Regions from separate parts of the Homo sapiens genome. Here region 2 is linked to region 1. Evidence: fine-mapped expression QTL. A gene starts in region 1. The other region holds a variant in brackets. All regions are shown on one strand. Distances are from middle to middle. Region 1 holds the start of DRC2 (dynein regulatory complex subunit 2). Region 2 has its middle 5.9 kb from the start of FKBP11.

Evidence for each region. PIP is the estimated chance that this variant, and not a neighbour inherited with it, causes the effect. A credible set is the group of variants that fine-mapping cannot tell apart.
Region 2: its variant is the best candidate, but not a certain one, in a credible set for the expression of DRC2 in whole blood (INTERVAL, PIP 0.55).

Annotation. Positions count from the first base shown.
Region 1 is chr12:48,902,932-48,905,847 of GRCh38, reverse strand. It overlaps DRC2 (dynein regulatory complex subunit 2), which reads right to left and starts at 1,715. Exons shown (of 8, transcript NM_033124.5): 1 at 1,380-1,715; 2 at 735-902. The coding sequence starts at 1,511. It also overlaps the pseudogene RPL32P27. RefSeq lists a silencer at 1,709-1,758.
Region 2 is chr12:48,929,924-48,932,839 of GRCh38, reverse strand. It overlaps a transcript of FKBP11 not described here. Among named protein-coding and RNA genes, the nearest start is that of FKBP11, 5.9 kb to the right of the region's middle. The variant A/G (reference allele first, on the strand shown) is at 1,045.

The DNA.
Region 1 (2,916 bases):
CTGAGCCGAGATTGTGCCACTGCACTCCAGCCTGGCAACAGAGCAAGACTCCATGTCAAATAAATAAATAAATAAATAATGGAAAAGACTAAGGAGAAGGCAGTAAATGGAGGCAGAATATTAAAAGTAAGACAAAAGAAGGGGTACAGAAAATCCCTTAGAAGAAAAGATAGGATGGAATCAAGAACTCAAGAACCTCCCAAGAGCATAAGGATGGCTGATTGAATTGCTTAGAAATCCAGAACTGCTCTTACCCATGGAGATCTTCTCAACCTTATCCAGGGCCACTGAAGTTGAATCAAGAGGCCAAACAATTTAGTTGAATGGAGCACTGCAGTGGGAATCAATAAACACATGCTGGAGTCCTGGTTCTCTCACTGACTAGCTATGTGACCTTGGGCAAGTCAGTTCCCCTCTGGAACTGAGCCTTCTGACATTGAAATGAAGGTGTGGGACTCATTTCAAGTCACTGGGTGATGTCTACTGTGCCTTATGACTCTACTATTGGATAGTACTGGTTTTGGGCAATAGATGACAAGAAGAGTGGGTCCTCTAAGGGAGAGAGGGATGAAAGCCCAATATTCTATTTTTTATTTCTGTGAAAACCATTATTACCAATAGCCTGGCTTTCTCACAGCCTGTGTCTTGTGAGGGCTTTAAGATGGATTCACTAGGCTCATTCTATTAAGAGGTCAGGAAGCCATACTCAAGGTTTCCTTGGAAAGAGTGCCTACCTTGATGACATTGTCCTTACAGTCCACCACTCGTTCAAATGTTTGGCTGAGGATCTCAATGTCCTTATGAAGTTCTCTGGTCTTGACTTCCCGAAGGACAGTTCTCCACTGTGTGTTAATCTTATTAAGGTTCAGAGCACTGTTGTGTTCCTCCTTGGCCAGCTTGTCCTGTGTGAAGGAATAAATATACCTCCAGGAAGTCAGGGCCTTTCAGTACAACAAACAAGATCACTCTTAATTTATCAGCTGACACCTTACCCCTTTTCGATGGGAACGGCCTGATGGCATTTAGGGAGGGCAAGGGTGAATTTCCTTCAGGGTGGGAGCATCAGAGTAGGATGTTGTTTGTAATGACCTATCTCCAGGGAGAATATCAGCATTCCAGACAGCTGGAACAGCTGACAGGACCTACGGTCCCAGTTCTGGGATTCAGTAAAGATTGCCAAGCCGTATACCACGCACCCCCTCCGTGCTTCGCAGAGAACACCCCCGCCTCCCAAACAATGTTGCCTGAAATCTAAGTATATCTGGGTCTCAGGATTTCCGGAGGAGGGGAGGTCAGGATGAAAATGAGGTTTCCTCAGTGACAGGGCCAGGGCAGGGGGTGGATGGGGTTGAGCAGGACATAATGCAAAAGGCCATCACCTTCAAGAACTGGCTGAGGAGCCTCTCCTTCTTTTTGGCCATCTCCTCCTCTGCCAGCAACTTCTGCTGAAACAGAAGCAGCTGCTTCTCATCGGACAGGGGCGTCTTGGCCATTTTTTCTTTCTTAGGCATGGGGGCAGGGGATTGGATCCGGGAAAGAAGCCTCGGTCTGCCTCGGCCCGCGTTACAGAGCTTAGAAGAAAAATGTCCCTAGAAAGGGGACTTCCAGAAGTGCCCCTGGTTGTGGGCGGTTGTGGGACCGGAGATCTCAGCCCTCGAACAGGAGAGATCCCCGGCTATCAGTGAGGCTGAGCTCTCCCACTGTAAGACGCGTCTAGTCTCCTAGCAACGAGGATATCGCTAACATGGAGAGGCAACAGGCTAGAAGAGTCCCTGTCTTGGAGCGCCCCCTACCCAGTGGAGGACCGCGGTCGGTTTTTGAGAGGGTCCTTTTAACTCTCAAAAATCTGTCTCCTCAGTGCATTTTATTTATTTATTTATTTATTTATTTATTTATTTATTTATTTATTTTTGACATAGAGTCTCTCTCTGTCGCCTAGGATGGGCACGATCTCGGCTCACTGCAACCTCCGCCTCCCGGGTTCAAGCAATTCTCCTGTCTCAGCCTCCCCTCAGTGCACTTTTATAAACCGTCCTCAGAACCCTTGGGAAGCCCAAGATCGTCAAAAAGAGAACCAAGAAGTTTATCCGGCACCAGTCTGACCGATATGTCAAAATTAAGCGTAACCGGCGGAAACCCAGAGGTATTGACAACAGGGTTCGTGGAAGGTTCAAGGGTTAGATCTTGATGCCCAACATTGATTATGGGAGCAACAAGAAAACAAAGCACATGCTGCCCAGTGGCTTCCGGAAATTCCTGGTCCACACGTCAAGGAGCTGGAAGTGCTGCTGTTGTGCAACAAATCTTACTGTGCTGAGATCGCTCACAATGTTTCCTCCAAGAACCGCAAAGCCATCGTGGAAAAGAGCTGCCCAGCTGGCCGTCAGAGTCACCAACCCCAATCCCAGGCTGCGCAGCAAAGAAAATGAGTAGACAGCTCATGTGTATGTTTTCTGTTTAAATAAAACTGTAAAAACTGCAAACAACAACAACAACAAAAACCTTTTTTAAAAAGATAAGTGTTGGAGAGAATGTGGAGAAACGAGAACCCTCATATATTGGTGGTAGAAATGTAAAATGGTGTAGCCACTTTGGAAAACAGTTTGGCAATTTTTTAAAATGTTAAACATAAATTTACCATGTGACCCAATAATTTCACTCTTAGGGATCTGCCTAAGAGAAATGAAAGCATGTATACACACAAAAACTTGCACAGGAATTTTCTTATCTGTCTCACTCATAATAGCCCAGTTGGAAAAATTGGAGACAACCTAAATGTCCATTAACATGTGAATGAGTAGACAAAATATGCTATGTCCATACAATGGAATATTATTCAGAACAAACTATGGATACCAGCTACAATGTGGATGAACCTCAAAAAGAATATGCAGGCTGGGCGCTGTGCCTCACACC
Region 2 (2,916 bases), 27 kb before region 1:
TCCAGGCGAGGCAGCAGGTTTGAGAATGGGCTTGTCCGCCTGGCACCTGCTTCCCCCCACTTCCACCTTCACCCCTCCATCCCATATATCGTTCAGGGTCCTCCCAGCACAGAATTGAATAGAAGGACTTTTAAGGCTTGGAGGGCTTAGCTTGGGGCTCTAACCCACAGGAATTCTTTCTGAGTTCTGAATATAGTAATAAAGGGCACTCTTGGCCTTAGGTTATAGATAGGAGATGGGGAATCTGTTCTTGTCTTTGCCAAATCTTGCATTTATGGGATGATACCTCTTTGATTAGAACAGCCATAGGGGAAGAGTGGAGGAAGTAAGTAAGTGCTTCATTCTTGGATGAATATATGCATAAACATACCTGAAAGAAAACATCTAGTCAGCTGGGGGTATGTATACCCTTGAAAATACAACACCAGGCCAGGCATGGTGGCTCAATTCTATAACCTCAACACTTTGGGAGGCTTAGGTGGGAGGATAGCTTGAGCCCAGGAGTTTGAGATCAACCTGGGCAACATGGTGAGGCCCCATCTCTATAAGAAAAAAAAAAAAAAAAAAAAAAAAAAAAATATATATATATATATATATATATATATATATATAAATATATGTTTATATGATATATATACAATTATATGTTTATATTATATATATATATATATTTTTACTTTTATTTAAAAAAAATAGAGATGGGATTTCACTATGTTGCCCAAGCTGGTTTCAAACTCCTGGGCTCAAGCAGTCCTCCCACCCCAGCCTCCCAAAGTGCTGGATTTACAGGCATGAGCCATTGTGCCCGGCCAAAAAAAAATGTTTTTAATTAGTTGGGCATGGTGGCACGTGCCTGTGGTCCCAGCTACTCAGGAGGCTGAGGCAGGAGGATTGCTTGAGCCTGAGAGATTGAGGCTGCAGTGAGCTGTGTTTGCGCCACCGCACTGGTGACACAGCAAGACCCTGTCTCAACCAAAATCAAATTTTAAACCCAAATTTATATATGCCAACTCAGGCTTTTACTTTATTAACAACCTGTTATAA[A/G]TAAACACTTAAGAACATTTAAAGAGCAGTGTTCTGCTTATTCTTTGGCACATAATAGTCATGCAACCTTGATGAACAAATGGATGAATTAATAAACACCATTGTCTTTAATCAAGCTGGGCATGGTGGGTGCCCCATGAGTCTTGGAAGCCCAGGTACTGTGGTAGGGTTTCTCCTACACACTGACAGAGACACCTTTGAGTGTGGAGGCTTTTCTAGCAATGGTTCTGTGATTAAGTTGTATCTCCAGCCAGGGGTGGGCCAACTCTCCTATCTTTCCAAGAATCATCTCACCTTTCTCTGTTGTTTGGATTTCTTCTAACTTGATCCAAGGAAAAAGCTCCTTCTCTGGTCCCTCCAGGGTGCAGATGGGCTTGTGCTGCCTGTGGGTGGATATTGTGTTTAATAGTTTTGCCCTTTCCATTTCTACTACCACCTTCTCCTACTCCACTCCTCTTCCCCTTCAGGTTCCTGAACAGAGCCTCAGACCTGGATAAGACAATAGCCTTCCACCTTCACCACACTGTTCGAGTCTGCTGATACATCAGTGCAGTATGCTGTGTCATCCTTTTGCTTAGAAACTTGCAATGTGTTCCCACTGCCTTAGTCTGACATTCAAGGTTCTTCACAACTAGCCTTTTTTTTTTTTTTTTTTTTTTTTTTTTTTAAGCTGGAGTCTCGCTCTGTCGCCCAGGCTGGAGTGCAGTGGCGCGATCTCGGCTCACTGCAAGCTCCGCCTCCTGGGTTCACGCCATTCTCCTGCCTCAGCCTCCCGAGTAGCTGGGACTACAGGTACCCGCCACCACGCCTGGCTAATTTTTTGTAATTTTAGTAGAGACGGGGTTTCACCGTGTTAGCCAGGATGGGTCTCGATATCCTGACCTCGTGATCCGCCCGCCTCGGCCTCCCAAAGTGCTGGGATTACAGGCGTGAGCCACTGCACCCGGCCTACAACTAGCCCTTAATTCCCTCTCCAGCCACCTCTCTCTAGTCTCTGGCCAAATCCCTTACTTTAGCCAAATCAGTCCATTCATTTTTCCCAAACATCTGGCCCTCTGCCTTCACCTCCTTTCTCACTTGTTTAAAAATCCCACTCCAAGATCTAGCTCAAGTTTCACCTCCTCCACAAAGCTGCCTGTGCCCTCTGCAACTACAAGGACTTTTATAGTTTTTCCCCACGTTGGCTCCTTTAGCTCTGTTAGCACAACTCATTTAACACCTCCCACTCATTCCCTTGTATTGCTATATATCTTGTTTATTCGTGTAATATTTAATATTAAAAATTATTTTTATAACCTGAGAAGTAACATCTGAGCAGGAAAAAAATTATAACCAAAGTAATTTCTATTGTAAAAGATCCAAACAATACAAAAATATACAGAGCAACATGTGGGACATTGCCCTTACTCTTCTCTCTCCCATGCCCAAACGTAACCATCCTCAGCTATTTGATGTGCATCCTTCTAGTTCCTTTTTTAAATGTATGTGCTGACACATGTTTGTGGAGGGGTTAAAATATAAATGGGCTCATATCACATCTGTTATTCTGCTACTTGCTTTTTTACTTAGGGTATATATACATTTGTCTTAGAGATTTTCTATATTAGTGTAATTAGATCTCCTTTTAATGGCTTCTCAGTATTTCATAGTATAATTTCTTCAAAGTAAAACATACTGTCTAGAATCTATTATTTGGAGGCTATCGTGTAGCTAGTACTTAGCTCCAGACATGATTGCAACCTTGACCTTGCCATCAGTTAGCTGGCTCTTTGGGGGAGATAGGAAGGGAGGAATGGGGCATACACAAATAACTGCAACAAAAGGAAAAATATAATAATGTCCACAAGTGTATGCCTGGAGATCCTAGCTAAG